3 linked regions of the Homo sapiens genome follow. The protein of the gene in region 3 interacts with the protein of the main gene of each other region in a pairwise test. Each region holds a gene or a part of one and is shown on either strand. Other genes may lie near its edges.

Region 1 (7,024 bases), on a different chromosome or scaffold from region 3:
ATGGAGGTATAGGTACTTGTCACATTCAAACGTAGCTAAACACGTTCTAAAACTGCATGTGAGACCTTGTCCTCAAAGATATATGGCGTAAAAACATCGTACACTCTGTCCTACTTTCTGGCTTTTACATACTCTATTCCTTCTACCTAGAAATGTCTTGTCCTTACTTCTTGCCCTGACAAGTACCCATTTAAGAACCAACTCAGGTGTCATTTTCTCTGTAAAATATACTTAACCTCTCTAGGCAGCTCGTTGCCTACTTCGTGGGTGTGCACAATTATTTTATAACACTTACATTATAATGTAACTAACTGTTTATATGCTTGCCTTCCAAACCACACTGGACTTAAGGAGACATATCATCCACTTTTTAATCTCAGTCTAGTATACTGGTTCATGCTCAAAATACCTGTGTTGCATGAATGACAGAGACCCTCTCTTGTTTTGGTTGTTTGACCTTCCCTAGGACATTCTAGGTCTTCTCCTAGGCCATCACTCTGCTCTAAAGCAATCTTTTCAATGTATCCATGTATCTATTGGCTTATTATATGCCAGGTACTATAACCTAATCCTAAAATTTCATATAAACCCACTTTAGTGGTAAACCCCTAAGTTCTGAATACGGTAATCTTCTTCCCGAATAGTTGGAAAAAAAAAACCTCGCCTGGGCATGGTGGATCACACCTGTAATCCCAGCACTTTGGGAAGCCAAGGTGGGTGGATTGCTTGAGCTCAGGAGTTCGAGACCAGTCTGGGCAACATGGCAAAACCCCATCTCTACAAAAAAAAAAAATACAAAAATTAGCTAGGCGTGGTGGTGCATGCCTGTAGTGCATGCCTGTAGTCCCAGCTACTCAGGAGGCTGAGGTGGGAGGACGGCTACAGCCCGGGAGGTGGAGGCTGCAGTGAGCCAAGATCGTGCCACTGCACTCCAGCCTGGGAGACAGAGCTAAACCCTGTCTCAAAAAAAAAAAAAAAAGAAAAGAAAATACCTCATCCTTGAAACCCAATCTGCCCTGTCCACTTTGTTCCTTCTCTTCCACGTCCCATGCTGGTGCATCTCTCCTACTCTGCTCTTTTAGCTTAACCAATCAGTCAGGCTTGCTAATCAGAAGCTAAAAGAAAGGTGTAGAAAATTACATGCTGTGAAGAATACAGACACAGCTGGGTGCAGTGGCTCATGCCCATAACCCCAGAACTTTGTCAGGCAAAGGCAGGAGGATCACTTGAACCCAAGAGTTCAAGACCAGCCAGGGCAACATGGTGAAATCCCATCTCTACGAAAGACACAAAAATTAGGCCGGGCATGGTGGCTCATGCCTGTAATCCCAGCACTTTGGGAGGCTGAGGTGGGTGGATCACCTGAGGTCAGGAGTTCGAGACCAGCCTGGCCAACCTGACAAAACCCCTCTCTACTAAAAATACAAAAAAATTAGCTGGGCATGGTGGCGTGCACTTGTAGTCCCAGCTACTCCCAGCTACTCGGGAGGCTGAGGCAGGAGAATCACTTGAATCCAGGAGGCAGAGGTTGCTGTGAGCCGAGATTGCACCACTGCACTCCAGCCTGGGTGACAGAGTGAGACTCTCTCTTCAAATAACAACAACAACAAAAATTAGCCGAGTGTGGTGGGGCGCGGTGGCGTGTGGTGGCACATGCCTGCAGTCCCAGCTACTTAGGAGGCTGAGGTGGGAGGATCACCTGAGCCTGGGAGGTTGAGGTTCTAGTGAGCTGAAATTGCACCACTGCACTCCAGCACGGGCAACAGAGTTACAGAGTTAAACCCTATCTCAAAAAAATAAAAAATAATAAAAAAGAAAAAGACTACAGACCGCCCACCCCAGCCCCTGCTGCTTAAGTTCATACAACTTTTACTCATTTTATTAATTTCCTAAATCTTCAGAAACTTCATAAAGTGACAAGCTAGACCACAGCATTACTTAGCTTCAGCCCTGGAAAGAGATTTCCATTAGTATAAATTTGATTATGCTCCAATAGACTTCAGTGGTTAAAGAAATGTGTTCCTATATTATGTCTGTACTTTCCATCCCCAAGTCATGTAACATAACTAGGCTACCCATTTACAAATAGACCCCTAGTAGGCATCAGGGTGGTAGACATGCGCCAACTTGTCACAATGAACTGTACCCTTAACATCTTCATTTTTCCTGCCCTATTTAAGACCCATCTCTAGGCTAGACAACTCCAAGAGCCTCCTTATCTGCTCTCCCTATTCCCCACTCCATCCAAATTCCATTCTGGAAGGTTACTCTTTTGCTTAAAATCCTTCAAAGAAAAAGAAAAAAGAAAAAAAGTGCTTCAACCCAAAACTTATTTCCATGGCTTACACAGGCCTATCAACCTGAATCCAGTCCACGTTTTCAGGTTGATCTCTAGTCATTTCCCAGGTATGGGGTCTTGCTATTACCCAGGCTGGTCTCGAACTCCTGGGCTCAACTAATCCTCCCACCTCAGCCTCCTAAGCAGCTGGGACCACAGGTGCACACCACCATGCCTGCTCCTCTGTGAAGTCTTTCTTGAAACCATCATGCAAATTCTATTGTTCTTTCATCTATCTAAGAGCACCCGTATTTTCTTTAGTATTTATCATATGACATTTGAATAATTTTCTATCTATCTATGTATCAATTATCTGTCTCCTCTACCAGGTGAAACTTCCTATCAAGAAAACCATGTCTAAGTTCTTTTTGAAATACCCAGTACTCACCCAGGGTTCAACAGTGTATCATTCTGAAAGTATCTGTTGAAGCCAGGTGTGGTGGCTCACACCTGTAATCCCAGCACTTTGGGAGGGTGAGGCGGGTGGCTCGCTTGAAGTCAGGAATTCAAGCCCAGCCTGGCCAACATGGTGAAACCCTGTTTCTACTAAAAATACAAACATTAGCTGGACATTGTGGCACATGCCTGTAATCCCAGATACTTGGGAGGCTGAGGCAGAAGAATCGCTTGAACCCGAGAGGCAGAGGTTGCAGTGAGCTGAGATGGCACAACTGCACTCCAGCCTGGGCGACAAAGCGAGACTCCATCTCAAAAAAAAGTTGTCTGTTGAATTGAATGATCACCTGTCTATACTATTCTTGCTTATCTCTTTCATCTCTATTCTTCCTCTGAGAACTATGCTGCTCATATTTCTTATCTTTTTCATCAAAATTCATCTATGTACCACACTCTTCTAGAGCCTAATTGAAAGACTTTGTACACAGAGTTGTAGAAATGGTTGGAATATAGATATCCTAGTCTAGAGACATGAGCTCTCAATCTATTCAGAGCATAAGGTTTATGGTTAAATAAGGACACTAACCAAAGGCAGGCCAGCATGGTAACTATTAAAGGAGTTTAGGGAAAGTTTGAGTTAAGCCTTAAAGATGCTACAGAAAAAACAAAAACCTGTTTCCTGGTGATCTAAATTGGGGAAATTACATTATATTGAAGATTTATACTACATATTAGCATATTAGCATGTTTAAAGATTTAAGAAACTCATAAACTTGTTTTATTTTGTTTAACTCAGTATTTTCCAAGCTTATTTCCTCACAAAACATTTTTCTTTCAAGTAATGCCTATAACATACCTTAGGAAATAGTGATGTGAGTGAAAAATAGAAAATAAAATCAAAAGATGGTTGGAGATGGCCGGGCGTGGTGGCTCACGCCTGTAATCCCAGCACTTTGGGAGGCTGAGATGGGTGGATCACGAGGTCAGGAGATCGAGACCATCCTGGCTAACACGGTAAAACCCCGTCTCTGCTAAAAATACAAAAAATTAGCCAGGCATGGTTGCAGGTGCCTGTAGTCCCAGCTACTCAGGAGGCTGAGGCAGGAGAATAGCATGAACCCGGGAGGTGGAGCTTGCAGTGAGCCGAGATTGCACCACTGCACTCCAGCCTGCCTGGGCAACAGAGCGAGACTCCATCTAAAAAAAAAAAAAAGATGGTTGGAAACTGTAAAGGAGCTTAAATGATAAGGGTAGATCAAATAAGTTCTCAAAGACATAATAAGAACTCATCTTATAGGTTAGGTAGTCAATGAATAGTCTTAGGCAGGGGAGTGATACAGATGTTCTCCTTTAGTACAAGTACTTTGGCAAATCTGAGACAGATGTATTGGGATGGAGGTTGGTGTACGTGCACAAGAGGAGGGGGTGGTGTGGAGTTGGGGAATGCAGGGAAAAGTTGTGGAACAGGAGGTATGGAGCCAAATCAAGAGAAGAGGTTCAGGGAGGCTTCAGAAAGCAAAAATCCTCCTTCACTGACTGAAATTTGTCTTGCTCAAAGAGCTTGCTTGATCTTCCCTCATAAATGTGCTAGGGATGAAAAAAGCTTCCTGTTTATGGGATGGTCCAGTCTAGTTGTCTGGGAAGGCCAATAGCTGATACTGTTTCCTGGGATCAGGTGGGAGGAAGGATTCTGCAGAGGACAGAGGCAGCAATGAAAGGCTGGAGTGGTGGACCTGCACAAAGAATTTAGGTCAAGACAGCCTTATCCCTTCTTATTCATCTGTACAGAAGATCTGCCCCTGTACACCAGGAAATTTTCTGTTGCCTACTTTGCTCACCCGTCAGTCTCCTAGAGATTCTGAAAGGGTTTTAAGATTAGCAACAGGATACTTGAGAGGAAAACATTACAGTTACCTGACTTCGGGGTTTCTGAAAAGACATACTTGGGCAGAGACTCAAAAGCGTAAAAGATCAATTGTACCAATTATTAGCAATGAAACACTAGGCCCCATGTTTAAACTTCTCTGAACTGGTTTCTCCTTTATAAAATGCACGCCAATATCCACCTGGATGAGACTAAAATGAAATTATGTCTGAATGAGATTATAGTCTGAAGACTATAAAGAACTATAAAAAATCAGTTATTTGTATTTTGAACTAATTTTATCTCATTTGACAGCTTGTTTTAAGATTATACTAGGCCATATTGTTCTTAGTATATTAAATAATAATGTGAGGCCGGGCACAGTGGCTCACGCCTGTAATCCCAGCACTTTGGGAGGCCGAGGTGGGCAGATCACGAGGTCAGGAGATCGAGACCATCCTAGCTAACACGGTGAAACCCCGTCTCTACTAAAAATACAAAAAAAAAAAAAAAAAAAATTAACCAGGCGTGGTGGTGGGCGCCTGTGGTCCCAGCTACTCAGGAGGCTGAGGCAGGAGAATGGCGTGAACCCGGCAGGCAGAGCTTGCACTGAGCAGAGATGGTGCCACTGCACTCCAGCCTGGGTGACAGAGCGAGACTCCGTCTCAAAAAAAAAAAAATTATAATGTGAATGTTTTCCCACTGAAATTGGTTCCCTTATTTATGAATAAAATAAAACCATATTTGAGTGTAAGAGAAGAAAAATCCAAAACTCTTTGCTCTATCCTACAAATATTCTGTAAACAAATCATGAATCTCTGAATGTATGGTGTTCTTGTTATTATGAGTAATTATAGTAAAACTAATGATCAGAACCTGTAAGATTGCTCACATGCCCCCCTCACCCTACCAAATGCACATACAAACAAGGCAGAGGGGAGACCTGATCAATTTGGCTGGCAAGAACTTTATCTGTGGGCAGTAAAGATGGTCAGGTATGGGAATAGGAGGTAACTGGGACTTGGACTTCTCTTCTAGTGTTTATCAATGACCTCTACCAGCCCCAGAAGAATAGAACGATTTGTTTAAAAAAATAAAACAAAGGAGCAGTGTGCAGTGGTTCGTGCCTATAATCCCAGTTACTCAGGAGGCTGAGGTGGGAGTACTGCTTTAGTCAAGGAGTTCAAGGTTGTAGTAAGCCATGATCATGCCACTGCACTCCAGCCTGGGCACAGAGTGAGACTCTGTCTCTAAAACAAAACAAAACAACACTGTTCAAAACAAAACAAGGGAACCATGACATCCAGTAAGAACACAGAAGCTATTTTTTTTCCTGGCATTAAAAAGAGGCAGCAATAATCCCAGCACTTTGGGAGGCCAAGGCGGGAAAACAGCTTGAGCCCAGGAGTTCGAGACCAGCCTGGGCAACACAGGGAGACCCTATCTCTACAAATAATAATAATAATATTAATAATAATAATTAGCTGGGCTTGGTGGCATGCACCCGTGTTCCCAGCTACTTGAGATGCTGAGGCAGGAGGATCGCCTGAGCCCAGGAGATTGAGGCTGCAGTGAGCCGTGATTGCACCACTGCTGCACTCCAGCTTGGGTGACAGAGCGAGACGCTGTCTCAAAAAAAAAGAGATGCAAAGCCACTAGGCACATCCCAAGGGAGAACTCAGGCATCTATTTGGCAACTAACAGAATTTTAAAGTTACTCCCTATAACCACTTTCAACTGAAGATCTCAAAACACCGTGTAAACATTAATTAAACCTCTCAAGTCAGGAAAGAATTAGACCTATTTCAGATAAGAAAAATAACGTAGGTAGGAGGCTGTTAACAACAGGAATCAGAAAGGAAACTAGACTCTAGTATCTTTGGCTTTCTCCATGTTGTCCTCAGGCTACACTTAATGAAATGCACCCAAGCAGCAGCATCCTCAATAATGCGGCTATGTTGACAAGCAAATGCTTTTTAAAACAGGGGCTGAATGGAAGGAATATTGGCATTGGTTGGAATTAAGACCCCTGTTCTAAGCCTGGTTCCACCACTTACTAGTTATATGACCCTGAACAAGTCATTCAATTTCCTTAAACTTTAGTTTCCTCATTTATAAAACTATATCAAACCTAAACCTATCTCACAAGGTTGTATCGAATTAAATTATATATACCTGGCACACAGGTATTGAGAGGCCAGCTTTCTTCTTTCCCCAAACTCCACCTTAAGTCCGTAGATGACACATATAAAAAAATACATTGTTTATATATATAACTATATATATGATTATCATTCTTCTAACTAATTAAAAAAATAAAATCTGGAGGATACTAACATAATACTTGGCTAAAATAAGAAATGGCCTAATTTTTTAATAACTTCCAAATAGTTGAGAGTTGTCACCAAGCTTGAAAATTATTTTCT
Region 2 (7,793 bases), on a different chromosome or scaffold from region 3:
TATTAACGGGAGTATTCACAAGCTGCTATCAGTATTCTTGTATTACATTTTTACAACTTCATGTTATCATTACATTAGTTGCATAATTAAATTCAATAAAAACAAAGATGAATAAGATGAGAGATATACTGATATATGCAATATGTGCTTTGTGACACATATTTTCCAAAAATGGCTACACCAACCTGTATCTCATTTTATATGCTTTGCTTATAATGCAGTGTTGGTGTTTCTCCATTGACGGTGGAGCTGCATTCCCTCCCCTTGAACCTGAGAGGATCTTTGTAACTGCTTTGACTAATAAAATGTGGCAGATGTAATGCCGTGTGACTTTGAAGGTTAGGCCACAAAGGGCAACATGGCTTCCACTTGGCTCTCACTCTCTTAAGACCCTTGCCCTTGGCCGGCCAGAGTGGCTCACACCTGTTATCCCAGAATTTTGGGAAGCTGAGACAGGCAAATCACTAGAGACCAGGGGTTCTAGACCAGCCTGGCCAACATGGTGAAACCCCATTTCTTTCTTTTTTTTTTTTTTTTCTCGAGACAGAGTCTCACTTTGTCGCCCAGGCTGGAGTGCAGTGGCACGAGTGGCGCGATCTTGGCTCACTGCAACCTCCACCTCCCAGGTTCAAGCAATTCTCCTGCCTCAGCCTCCCAAGTAGCTGGGATTACAGGTGCCCACCACCAAGCCCGGCTAATTTTTGTATTTTTTAGTAGAGACGGGGTTTCACCATGTTGGGCAAGCTGGTTTCGAACTGCCGACCTCAGGCAATCTGCCCGTCTCGGCCTCCCAAAGTGCTGGGATTACAAGTGTGAGCCACCGCGCCTGGCAGTGAAATCCCATTTCTACTAAAAATACAAAAATTGACTGGGCCTGGCAGCTCACATCTGTAATCCCAGCACTTCGGGAGACCGAGGCAGGCAGATGGCTTGAGGTCAGGAGTTCAAGACCAGCCTGGCCAACATGGAGAAACCCCGTCTCTACTAAAGATACAAAATTAGCCAGGCATGGTGGTGCATGCCTGTAATCCTAGCTACCTGGGAGGCTGAGCGGGGAGAATTGCTTGAATCCGGGAGGCGGAGGTTGTGGTGAGCCGAGATCGCACCATTGTACTGCAGCCTGGGCAACAAGAGCAAAATTCCATCTCAAAGAAAAAAAAACAGAAAAAATAGCTGAACATGGTGTGCACGCCTGTCATCCTGACATCTCAGCTACTATGGAGGCTGAGGCACAAGAATCACTTGAACCCAGGAGGTTGCAGTGAGTTGAGATCATGCCACTGCACTCCAGCCTGGGCGATAGAGTGATACTCTGTCTCAAAAAAAAAAAAAAAAAGACCTTTGCCCTTCAAATCCAGCCACCATGTTACCAGGAAGCACAGGCCACATGGAGAGATCATGCATGTGTATGTTCTGGCTGACAGCCCCAGCTAGGCCCCCAGCTGACATCACCCACCAGAAGTATGAGTAAACAACTTTGCCTATGATTCCACTCCCCAGTCTTTGAGTCTTCTTGCTGAGGCCCCCTCAGCTGTGGAGCTGAGATAAACCTTCCCATTGTGGCTTGTCTGGATTCCTGTTCCAAAGAAACCATGAGAGACTTTGTATATTTTATATGCATTCATATTTTATTTACTTTTTCTTTTTTGAGACAGAGCTACTGTGTTGCCCAGGCTGGAGTGCAGTGGTGCAATCTCGGCTCGCTGCAACCTCCGCCTCCCGGGTTCAAGTTATTCTCCCTGCCTCAGCCTCCCGAGTAGCTGGAATTACAGGCATGCACCACCATGCCTGGCTAATTTTTGTATTTTTTAGTAGAGACAGGGTTTTGCCATGTTGGTCAGGCCGGTCTGGAACTCCTGACCTCAGGCGATCCGCCCGCCTCCACCTCCCAAAGTGCTGGGATTACAGGTGTGAGCCACCACACCCGGCCCCTATCCTATTCTTATCACTTGAGTATATCACAAATAACCTTTCCTTGTCAATAGGTGCCTTAGTACAGCATTTTTTTTTCTTTTTTTGAAGACAGGTTCTGGCTCTGTCCCCCAGGCTGGAGTGCAGTAGCCCGATCTCTTGCTCACTGCAGCCTCCACATCCTGGGTCTTAAGTGATCCTCCCACCTCAGCCTCCCAAGTAGGTGGAGCTATAAGCACATCCAGCTAACTTGTATTTTTTGTAGAGACGGGGTTTCACCATGTTGCTCAGGCTGGTCTTGAACTCCTAGGCTCAAGTGATCCACCTGCCTCAGCCTCCCAAAGTGCTGGGATTACAGGCGTGAGCCACCACACCTGGCCAAAACTTTTTCTTTTTTTTGTAGACATGGAATCTCACTATGTTGCCCAGGCTGGTCTCCAACTCCTGGGCTCAAGCAATCCTCTCACCTTGGCTTCCCAAAGTGCTGGGATTACAGGCTTGAGCCACCATGCCCTGCCACCCAGTATGATTTATTTCATTTTTTTTGGTAAAGTGAAAGCAAGTTTATTAGAGAAGTAAAGAAACAAAGGAGACCAGGAGCAGTGGCTCACGCCTGTAATCCCAGAACTTTGGGAGGCCGAGGTGGGCGGATCAAGGAGTCAAGAGATCCAGACCATCCTGGCCAACATGATGAAACCTTGTCTCTACTAAAAATACAAAAATTACCATCCTGGCTAACACGGTGAAACCCCGTCTCTACTAAAAATACAAAAAAAATTAGGCGTGGTGGCGGGCGCCTGTAGTCCCAGCTACTCGGGAAGCTGAGGCAGGAGAATGGCGTGAACCCGGGAGGCGGAGCTTGCAGTGAGCCTAGATCGCGCCACTGCACTCCAGCCTGGGCAACAGAGAGAGACTCCGTCAAAAAAAAAAAAAAAAAAAAAAAATTAGCTGGGCGCGGTGGTGCGCGCCTGTAGTCCCAGCTACTCGGGAGACTGAGGCAGGAGAATCACTTGAACCCAGGAAGCGGAGGTTGAAGTGAGCGGAGATAGCGGCTCTCTCACTGCACTCCAGCCTGGGCGACAGAGCGAGACTCCGTCTCAAAAAAAAAAAAAAAAAAGTAATTGCTACTCCATAGGCAGAGCAGTCCACCCGACAAGGTTTTTGTTGTTGTTGTTGTTTGAGACAGAGTCTCGCTCTGTCCCCCAGGCTGGAGTGCAGTGGCGCGATCTCTGCTCGCTGCAACCTCCGCCTGCCGAGTTCAAGCAATTCTCCTGCCTCAGCCTCCCGAGTAGCTGGGACTACAGGCGCCCACCATCACGCCCGGCAAATTTTGTAAATTTTTAGTAGAGACAGGGTTTCACCATGCTGGTCAGGCCAGTCTCGAATTCCTGACCTCGTGATCTGCCGGCTCCGGCCTCCCAACGTGCTGGGATTACAGGCGTGAGCCACGGTGCCCGGCCACGCGGCATGATTTTTAATGGCTTTCTACATTGTATGGTTTGTTATTGTTGTTTTGAGACAGGGTCTCCTTCTATCACCGATGCTGGACTGCAGTGGTGCGATCTTGGCACTCTGCAGCCTCGACCTCCTCGGCTCAAGCGATCCTATATCACCTCAGCCCCCTGAGTAGCTGGGATGCACAGGTGTGTGCCACCTCGCCCAGCTAATTTTTAATTTTTTTGTAGAAAGGAGGGGGGTCTCACTACATCAAATTCTTGGGCTCAAGCGATCCTCCCACCTCGGCTTCCCAAAGTGCAGGGATTACAGGCATGAGCCACAGCGACCAGCCAGCACAGGTGTCTTTATTTGTTTTATTTTTTATTTTATTTTATTTTATTTTGAGACAGAGTCTCGCTCTGTCGCCCAGGCTGGAGTGCAGTGGCGCCATCTCGACTCACTGCAAGCTCCGCCTCCCGGGTTCACGCCATTCTCCTGCCTCAGCCTCCCGAGTAGCTGGGACTACAGGCGCCCGCCACCACGTCCGGCTAATTTTTTTGTACTTTTAGTACAGACGGGGTTTCACCGTGTTAGCCAGGATGGTCTCGATCTCCTGACCTCGTGATCCACTCGCCTCGGCCTCCCAAAGTGCTGGGATTACAGGCTTGAGCCACCGCGCCCGGCCTGCACAGGTGTCTTGAATATGTATATACGCGACTCCAGTATGGTTGGAAATGATTTGATTTGTTGTCTATGGAATTGCACAACCTGGAGCCTTCCTAACATCAGCGGCTTCATACTGGCATTTCCATTGTGGTGCAGCAACAATCTGAGTGAGCCTCCGTCTCTAGCCACATCATTTGACAACCGGTCCCAGAAGGTAACTGGAAGTCATGATGACAACTCCTATACTGTGAAAAGAAACTGCAAGCAAGGCAGTTAAGATGCAATCTTGCACGGTGACCGTAAGTCGGAGAACTGCGCGGCGAACGAGGCCTCGGCAGGGGAAGCGAAAGCCTGGTGTGGTTGCGGCTCTGGGGCCACCCTGCGACCGCCTCGGGGTGTAGGCAGAATTTCCCGGCCCAGCTCCCCTCTGACCAGATAGCGGCCGAGAAACAATGGTTATCTGCTCCACTGACGCCAGGATGTCTTCTCCGTGCCCGATCCCGGAGTACAAACAGTGAAATGAGAAGCCGGTGAGAAACGCGCTGGTTAAAAACATCTCGACGGGAGACGCTGGTAGGCGAATAGTGGCTCCAGACGCGGTCGGCGCCTGCCGTACCCTGGTCAGACTCTGGGTCAGAGCGCTAAGTTTCAAGGAGGCGGCGCTAAACAGGCCCTCTAGCCGGGAGCCTGTCGCGACCCGAGCGACCGTGGGTCGACCCCGATCCGGAAGTGACGCAACGGCGCCAAGCACTTCCGGAGCTGTGGGGACGACTCTTCTGGAGGAAGCAGCGCGGGCTTGACCGGCGTCGGCCCGCCGCCTCCGCTGCCGCTTCGCCCCAATCCGGTCCCTCTGGCCCGGCCTGACCCGGTCTGGCTTGTTCGGGCTCAGCGGCCGCGAGGCCGCAGCTCCCGGTAAGTGCGCGGCGCACGTCACGGCCTTGTTTACCTTGGCTGGCCGCTGGGGGGGCCTCTCCGCGCGCCTCCCTGGCCGGGCCGGGACTCCGCCTTCGCCGTCGCCCGGGAGGCCCGGGCGCTCCCCGTCGCCGGCACGTTGTCCGAGCATTACCCGCCGTCAGCGGCCGGGCGCCCAGCGTGTGTCTGCCTTTTTTCCTCCCGCCGCCTTCTCAGCTCTCGGAAAGGTCAGAGGCCACCGCCTCTGACCAACCGGCGCCGGCACATCTAGGCCCTCTCTCCCTGTCTGGCGCGGCGGGGAAACGCGCCGCCTCGGGGCTCACCACTCGAGTCATCTTTGGGAGCTCTCGCAGCGCTGCCCGCGCGGTTTAACGCCCGCCTGTGGAGGGTATCCCCAGCTCGCGGGCTCCGCGTCCGCGCGAATATCCCGGAGCCCGCGGCGCCCCTAGGGATGTGCGGCCCCGGAGCTGTGCCGCCGCCTCGCCAGAAGCTGGTTGGGCAGCCGCGTTCTTGGATGACTTCTCCTTAGTACTGTTCATTGCCTGGTCCCATAGAACTTTCTGTCATAGCGACATGTTCTTTACCTTTGCTGTTCAGCATGGTAGCTACTAGCCACACGTGGCCGTTAAGCATTTGACCTGTAGGCTAGTGCACCTGAGAAACTAAATTTTAAATTTTACTTACTTTTTAAGTGTAATTAAATTTAAATAACCACATGTGGCTAGTGGTCACCGTATTAGAAAAGACAGATACAAAGTGTAGGATTTTGAAACGAAATTGCTGATTTCTAGTTTTGTGCCAAGTCGTTTTTCTTCGGAGGTGTAGTTAGTAAATGACCTGAATTCAGCGCTAGTGATCATATCTGGAGTAAACGTCTTCAGACTCACTAAAACTTACGTGTTCTGTGCGTGGTGGGCAAGCCCAGGATGGTTGGTTGTTAGGTCCCCTGAACATGTGACTTTGGCTCTGGAGGAAATTTTTTTTTTTTTTTTTTTTGGTGGGCGGGACAAAGTTGCTGTCACCAGGCTGGAGTGCAGTGGCGGCGATCACAGCTAACTGCAGCCCCGACTTTCTGGGCTCAAGTGATCCTCCTTTCTTAGCCTCCTAAGTAGCTGGGACCACAGGCACGTACCACCACACCTGGCTAATTTGTAAAATTTTTTGTGGATACGTGATCTTAATAGGTTGCCTAAGCTGGTCTTGAACTGCTGGGCTCAAGCTATCCTCCCGGTTTGACCTCCTAAAGTGCTGGGATTACAGGCGTGAGCCACTGTGCATGACCTTTAAAAAAATTTTTTTTGAAAAAGTGCCCGGCCCACTTTTTCAAGTAGAATTCGGATATTTAACTTTGAGATGATTAAAAATTAAATTTTCATTTAAATGTGCACCTAGAACATTTAGTATGAAATGGAGTTCTCTCTCTTTTTTTTTTGGAGGAGCCTGGAGTTTTCCCCACCTAAATATTTGGTTGGTGAGAAGCCTGTGAGCAATTTCTTTTTTTTTTTTTTTTTTTGACACGGAGTCTCACTGTGTTGCCCAGGCTGGAGTGCAGTGGTGCAGTCTCGGTTCACTGCAGCCTCCATCTCCCAGATCAAGCAGTTCTGCCTTAGCCTCCCGAGTAGCTGGGATTACAGCTGGGATTACACCCAGGCTGGTTGGAGGGCAGTGGCGTGATCATGGCTCGCTGCAATCTCCTGGACTCAAATAATCCTCCTCACTTTGGGAGGCCGAGGCGGGCGGATCACGAGGTCAGGAGATCGAGACCATCCTGGCTAACACGGTGAAACCCCATCTCTACTAAAAATACAAAAAATTAGCCAGGCATGGTGGCGGGCGCCTGTAATCCAGTGAGCCGAGATCGCGCCACTGCACTCCAGCAAGACTCTCAAAAAAAAAAAAAAAGAAAGAAAAGAAAAGAAATATTGTCCCCTTGGAACAAGATCAGCACTTTTTCTTTCTTTCATTTATTTATTTTTATTTTTGAGTCCCGCTCTGTCTCTCAGGCTGGAGTGCAGTGGCGCGATCTCGGCTCACTGCAACCTCCGCCTCCTGGGTTCAAGCGATTCTCCTGCCTCAGCCTCCTGAGTAGCTGGGATTATAGGCGCATGCTACCACGCCCAGCTAATTTTTGTATTTTTAGTAGAGACAGGATTTCATCATGTTGATTAGGCTGGTCTCGAACTCTTGACCTTGTGATCTGCCACCTTAGCCTCCCAAAGTGTTGGGATCACAGGCGTGAGCCACCGTGCCCGGCCCACTTTTTCAAGTAGAATTTGGGTATTTAACTTTGAGATAATTAAAAATTAAATTTTCATTTAAATCTGCACCTAGAACATTTAGTATGAAATGGAGTTCTCTCTCTTTTTTTTTTGGAGGAGCCTGGAGTTTTCCCCACCTAAATATTTGGTTGGTGAAAAGCCTGTGGGCAATTTCTTTTTTTTTTTTTTTTTTTTTGACACGGAGTCTCACTGTGTTGCCCAGGCTGGAGTGCAGTGGTGCAGTCTCGGTTCACTGCAGCCTCCATCTCCCAGATCAAGCAATTCTCCTGCCGTAGCCTCCCGAGTAGCTGGGATTACAGGTATGCGCCACCATTCCTGGCTAATTTTTGTGTTTTTTGTAGCAGTGAGGTTTCACCATGTTGCCCAGGCTTGTTTTGAACTCCTGAGCTGAAGCCGTCCACCCACCTTGGCCTCCCAAACCAAAGTGCTGGGATTACTGGCATGAGCCACCACACGTGGTCCTGGAATTTTTCTTTTTTTTTTTCTTTTTTGAAGACAGGGTCTCACTCTGTCGCCTAGACTGGAGTGTAGTGGCGTGATCTTGGCTCACTGCAGCCTCAACCTCCTGTGCTCAAGAAATCCTCCCAC
Region 3 (6,535 bases):
TGGCTCACGTCTATAATCCCATGTCTTTGGGAGGCCGAGGAGGGCGGATCACCTGAGGTCAGAAGTTCAAGACCAGCCTGACCAACATGGAGAAACCCTGTCTCTACCAAAAATACAAAATTAGCTGGGTGTGGTGGTGCATGCCTATAATCCCAACTAGTTGGGAGGCTGAGGCAGGAGAATCGCTTGAACCTAGGAGGCAGAGGTTGCGGTGAGCCGAGATCACGCCATTGCACTCCAGCCTGGGCAGCAAAGTGAAACTCCATCTCAAAAAAAAAAAAAAAAAGAAGCATGGCACCAGCATCTCCTTCTGATGAGGCCTCAGGAAGCTTCCACTCATGGTGGAAGGCAAAGGGGAGCCACGTGTACAGATCACATGCAAGAGAAGAAGTGAAAGAGAGAGAGAGCGAGCAGGTGCCAGGATCTTCTAAACAACCAGCTTTTTCAGTAAGTAATAGAGTAAGAACTCTCTTATGACTGTGAGGTTGGCACGGAGCCATTCCACGGAGCCATTCGTGGGAGGTCTGCCCCCAGGACCCATACGCCTCCTGGTAGGCCCCACCTCCAACATTGGGGATCAAATTCTTTTCTTTTCTTTCCTTTTTTTTTTTTTTGGTGACAGAGTCTCACTCTGGAGTGCAGAGCAAGACTCACTGCAACCTCTGCCTCCTGGATTCAAGCAATTCTCATGCCTCAGCCTCCTGAGTAGCTGGGACTACAGGCACATGCTACCACGCCCAGCTACCTTTTTGTATTTTAGTGGAGGCGGGGTTTTATCATGTTGCCCAGGCTGATCTCAAACTCCTGAGCCCAGGCAATCCATCTGCCTCAGCCTCCCAAAGTGCTAGGATTACAGGCGCGAGCCACCGCCACGTAGGTCTTGGGGATCAAATTTCAACCTGAGATTTGAGGAGACAAAACATCCAACCACAGCACCCTCCCATCCTGCTCTGAGGCCTCAGCTGTTGGCCTTCTCTGACTGATAGGCACAGCCTTTTCTCCTTACTGAGACCATAAAAAATGAGATATTTTCTTTATCTTCCTACTTTTTTTTACTCCATCTCTCTTTTTTTTTTTTTTTTTTTTTTTGAGACGGAGTTTTGCTCTTGTTGCCCAGGCTGGAGTGCAAGGGTGTGATCTCTGCTCACCACAACGTCAGCCTCCCAGGTTCAACTTCTGCCTCTCGGTTCTTGCCTCAGCCTCCCGTGTAGCGGATATTACAGGCATGCACCACCACACCCGGCTAATTTTGCATTTTTAACAGAGACAGGGTTTCTCCATGTTGGTCAGGTTTGTCTTGAACTCCCGACCTCAGGGGATCTGCCCACTTTGGACTCCCAAAGTGCTGGGATTACAAACGTGAGCCATCGTGCCCGGCCTAGTTAGATCACATGGCTAGTGAGTGTCAGAGCCGAATCACACCCAGGCAGGGTGGCTCCAAGTGCTGGGATTACAAACGTGAGGCACCGCACCTGACCTAGTTAGATCACATGGCTAGTGAGTGTCAGAGTTGAATCACACCCAGGCAGGGTGGCTCCGGAGTCTGTGTGACCCCCATACTCTGTTGCACAGGCTAATGCATGTCAAACCCTTAGCACAGGACAGCACAGACAGGTGCTCAGAAAAGTGTTCAGGTGGCTCAAAGTCTAGAGGGTCTTCTGCTGGCTCCTTGCAGCTCCCAACCCCTAGGTCACTCCAGCCCCTGAGTTTGTTTGTTTTTAATCATAGTAAAATACACATAACAAAATTTACTATCTTAACCATTTTTAAGTATATAGTTCAGTGTCATTAAATAGGATTAAATAGGATTACAGCTGGGCATGGTGGCTCACGCTCGTAATCCCAGTAATCTGGAGGCCAGAGCAAAAGGATTGCTCAAGTCCAGGAGTTCAAGACCAGCCCTGGCACAGTGAGACCCTATCAAAAAAATTTTTTTAATTAGCCAGATATGGTGGTGGGCCCCTGTAGTACCAGCTACTCAGGAGGCTGAGGTGGGAGGATCACTTGAGCCCAGAAGTTTGAGATTACAGTGAGCAATGATAATGCCAGTGCACTCCAGCCTGGGTGACAGAGCGAGACCCTGCTTCAGTAAACAAACAAACACACATTGTTGCACAACCATCACCACCGTTCATCTCTAGAACTTTTTGTCTACCTGTACTGAAACTCTGTACCCCTTCAGTAACTCCCCATTCCTTTCTTTCCCCAGCACCTGGTGACCACTTTTGTATTTTGTTTCTATGAATTTGACTATTCTGGGTACTGCACATAAGTGGTATCTTGCAAATCTGTCCTTTTTTTGTCTAGCTTATTTCCTGTAGCATAGTGTCTTCAAGGTTCATCCGTGTTGTAGCATATATCAGAATTTCATTCCTTTTAAGGCTAAATAATACTCCATTGTGTGTATATGCCACGTTTTGTTGATTGATCCATTGATAGACACTTGGTTTGCTTTCACCTTTTGGCTGCTAGAAACATTGGTATACAAATACCTGTTTGCTTTCAGTTCTTTGGGTGTCTACCCAGAAGTAGAACTGCTGGATCATATGGTAATTCTGTGTCTAATCTTTTGAGAAATGGCCATACTGTTTTCCATCACAGCTGCACCATTTTATTTTCCTAAGCTCCTGAGTTCTTAGGATTTCCTCATTTTCTCCATTTCCTCACCCCCATTCTAATGTTTTAAGAAAGGATGTTCCATCCTTTTCTTCCATAATCTCAGAAAGTCTTGAAAGCTGAGATGGTCCTTAGAGCTCATCTAGTCCATCTTTATCCACTTTTCAAATGAGGAAACTGAGGCCTAGAGGTGGGAAGTGGCTCACCCGTGGTCACACAGCAAAAGCCAGGATCAGACTTCTCTGCCTCCCAGGCCAGTGCCCTTTGGTGATTTCACATTTTCACTAATCCATGACTCAATTGTCAAATGAATGCAGGTGCTGTGTGTGTCCTGGCTCATGATTCCTCCTGGGAGTGAAGCAGAGGATGCCTAGGACCCTCGGATTGGGGCAGGAAGGGAGGAAAACCAGACTGGAGCTTGACCCCTTTTCTCTCTGCACAGGACCAACCTCCCTACCACCTGAAAGCCTTCAACCTGCGCATCAGCTTCCCGCCGGAGTATCCGTTCAAGCCTCCCATGATCAAATTCACAACCAAGATCTACCACCCCAACGTGGACGAGAACGGACAGATTTGCCTGCCCATCATCAGCAGTGAGAACTGGAAGCCTTGCACCAAGACTTGCCAAGGTGGGGTTGGGCTTTGCTTGGAGGAGGGACTGATACTGGGTAGAGATTACTGGAGAGGGGGTTCACAGCTTATTCTGAGCTTGAAAAGCCCCAAAGAGAGGAGATAAAAATTGTGAGTCTTGGCTGAACTTACTATGAGATAGAAGGGATGCTTCCTGGACAGACTGACCTCCTCCTGCCTCTCTTCTTATACCTGTGCAGTTGTGACAGAGGAACGTTGCTGCGGTTCATGGGAGAGGCAGCTTGGCTGCACAGGGAAGGGCTCGGGAAAAGAAAGCCCGCTGTTCCCTCTGTGGACTTTGGGCAAGTTTTCGTTCCTTTCTGGGACTCGGTGTCCTAAATGACAGTGGAGGGAACTGGCCTCATAATGATAATACCTGTCACTTGACTGAGCACTTTCGGCACTGTGCTAAAAACATCACCTGCCGACTTCATTTTTATTTCCCCAACAAGCCCGTGAGGTAGTGTTGTTTAGTAGACCCGGACATCTGAGGCATGTGAGAGGTGAAGTGGTTGCCTAAGGTCATACAGATGACAAACGGCAGCACTTGGCTGACTCGCAAGCCACATGTGGCTGTTGCAACTGAAGAACTCAATTCTTTTTCTTTTTTAAGACAGAGTCTCGCTCTGTCGCCTAGGCTGGAGTGCAGTGGCGCGATCTTGGCTCACTGCAACCTCCACCTCCCAGGTTCAAGCGATTCTCCGGCCTCAGCTTCTTGAATAGCTGGAATTACAGGCGTATGACACCACACCCAGCTATTTTGTATTTTTAATAGAGAGGGGTTTTGCCATGTTAGCCAGGCTGGTCTCGAACTCCTGACCTCAGGCGATCCGCCTGCCTCCGCCTCCCAGAGTGCTGGGATTACAGGTGTGAGTCACTGCGCCTGGCCAGAACTCAATTCTTAATTGTACTTAATTTTAATCCTTTTTGTTTTTTCTACTGAGACACGGTCTGTCTCTATTGCCCAGGCAGTTAGTTCAGTGGCGCAATCTTGGCTCACTGCAACCTCCACCTCCTGGGCTCAAGCCATCCTCCCACCTCAGCCTCCCGAGTAACTGGGACTACAGGAGCATGCCACTATACCTGGCTAATTTTTGCATGCTTTGTAGATACCAGGTTTTGCCATATTGCCCAGGCTGGTCTCAAACTCGTGAGTTCAAGCCATCCACCCATCTTGGCCTCCCAAAGTGGTGGGATTACAGGCGTGAGCCACCGTGCCCAGCCTGATTTTAATTCATTTAAATTTAGATGCCTGCATGTGGCTAATGGCTACCATATTGAACAACACAGCTCTAGAGCCTGTGGCTGAATCAGTGTGCAATCCTCCACCTGGACCAGCTCAGGAGTTTTTAACTCAGGAAATGAAAGTCCTTAGGTTGGTGGGAGTGGGAGCAGGGAGAGGAGTGGTCCTTGGATGAGCTTCAGGGGGTCTGGGAACTGTCTGTTTTGCATGTGGATGTGCACATCTGTCTCGGGAGATGGGCTGCTGCCTTCACTAGGTTCCCAAAGGCATCTGTGAAAGATGAAGAGCCAGGGGGCAGTGGTGGTTTTCAGTCTTTAGCCTTAGACCTCTTTTGCCCAAGGAAAAGTTTATTTGGACTACCAATATAATGGAGGAAAACAGAGCAGTTTTTGTTGAAATGGGGATAAGACCCAGAAACCTCACTTATCTCAGTGGCCCCTGTGATGAGGAGCTTCTCTGAAGCCATGGAATGTAGTTGTTTGAAAACCACTGATGTAATCAGTCAAGGCCTTGGGTGTCACCAGCCAAGAATGAGCGGGGCGTTTGATCTGGTCGTAGAGTAATCCTAAGCGATGTAACCTTTCCCCCAAGGAGTGAGTGTGGAGTGTCAGGACATTGGGAACGGGCAGCCATGACTCCCTTCCCTCTGCCCTGATATCCTGATCTGGCCTGTCTCTCCCCAGTCCTGGAGGCCCTCAATGTGCTGGTGAATAGACCGAATATCAGGGAGCCCCTGCGGATGGACCTCGCTGACCTGCTGACACAGAATCCGGAGCTGTTCAGAAAGAATGCCGAAGAGTTCACCCTCCGATTCGGAGTGGACCGGCCCTCCTAACTCATGTTCTGACCCTCTGTGCACTGGATCCTCGGCATAGCGGACGGACACACCTCATGGACTGAGGCCAGAGCCCCCTGTGGCCCATTCCCCATTCATTTTTCCCTTCTTAGGTTGTTAGTCATTAGTTTGTGTGTGTGTGTGGTGGAGGGAAGGGAGCTATGAGTGTGTGTGTTGTGTATGGACTCACTCCCAGGTTCACCTGGCCACAGGTGCACCCTTCCCACACCCTTTACATTCCCCAGAGCCAAGGGAGTTTAAGTTTGCAGTTACAGGCCAGTTCTCCAGCTCTCCATCTTAGAGAGACAGGTCACCTTGCAGGCCTGCTTGCAGGAAATGAATCCAGCAGCCAACTCGAATCCCCCTAGGGCTCAGGCACTGAGGGCCTGGGGACAGTGGAGCATATGGGTGGGAGACAGATGGAGGGTACCCTATTTACAACTGAGTCAGCCAAGCCACTGATGGGAATATACAGATTTAGGTGCTAAACCATTTATTTTCCACGGATGAGTCACAATCTGAAGAATCAAACTTCCATCCTGAAAATCTATATGTTTCAAAACCACTTGCCATCCTGTTAGATTGCCAGTTCCTGGGACCAGGCCTCAGACTGTGAAGTATATATCCTCCAGCATTCAGTCCAGGGGGAGCCACGGAAACCATGTTCTTGCTTAAGCCATTAAAGTCAGAGATGAATTCTGGAGTGCAGCTGAGTCTTTGATGAGGGGATGGGGTGGTTTCATCAGGACCATAGAGGACTAGGGATTTAAGCATAAATTTCTGACCTTGCTTCCCTTGAATGTTCCCTAAACATCATAAGGAATGTTGGCCATGGAAAAATAGGCCATCCTTGGACAGAGGAGCTTTCAGAAGGTCCACAGGGGTGACGTCCCCATTTTATTTTATTTATTTATTTATTTATTTATTTATTTATTTATTTAAGACAGAATCTCACTCCGTCGCCCAGGCTAGAGTGCAGCAGTGCAATCTCGGCTCACTGCAACCTCCGCCTCCTGAGTTCAAGCGATTCTCCTGCCTCAGTCTCTTGAGTAACTGGGATTACAGATGCCCGCCACCACGCCTGGCTAATTTTTGTATTTTTAGTAAAGATGGGGTTTCACCACATTGGCCAGGCTGGTCTCGAACTCCTGACCTCAGGTGATCCACCCGCCTCAGCCTCCCAAAGTGCTGGGATTATAGGTGTGAGCCAC

What was found. The genes of interacting proteins can lie anywhere in the genome.
Region 1: the proteins of UBE2L6 (region 3) and RNF19B interact in binary tests that used the Homo sapiens proteins (3 or more experiments, as listed by UniProt).
Region 2: the proteins of UBE2L6 (region 3) and ARIH2 interact in binary tests that used the Homo sapiens proteins (3 or more experiments, as listed by UniProt).

What each region holds. Positions count from the first base shown.
Region 1 is NC_000001.11:32,954,786-32,961,809, forward strand, and holds part of RNF19B (E3 ubiquitin-protein ligase RNF19B), read right to left. Parts: intron 1-7,024.
Region 2 is NC_000003.12:48,914,073-48,921,865, forward strand, and holds the start of ARIH2 (E3 ubiquitin-protein ligase ARIH2), read left to right. Parts: upstream 1-4,769; 5' UTR 4,770-4,926; exon of another isoform or gene 4,927-5,313; intron 5,314-7,793.
Region 3 is NC_000011.10:57,551,147-57,557,681, reverse strand, and holds the end of UBE2L6 (ubiquitin/ISG15-conjugating enzyme E2 L6), read left to right. Parts: intron 1-3,058; coding exon 3,059-3,245; intron 3,246-5,172; coding exon 5,173-5,324; 3' UTR 5,325-6,020; downstream 6,021-6,535. UniProt on the Homo sapiens protein: Catalyzes the covalent attachment of ubiquitin or ISG15 to other proteins. Functions in the E6/E6-AP-induced ubiquitination of p53/TP53. Promotes ubiquitination and subsequent proteasomal degradation of FLT3.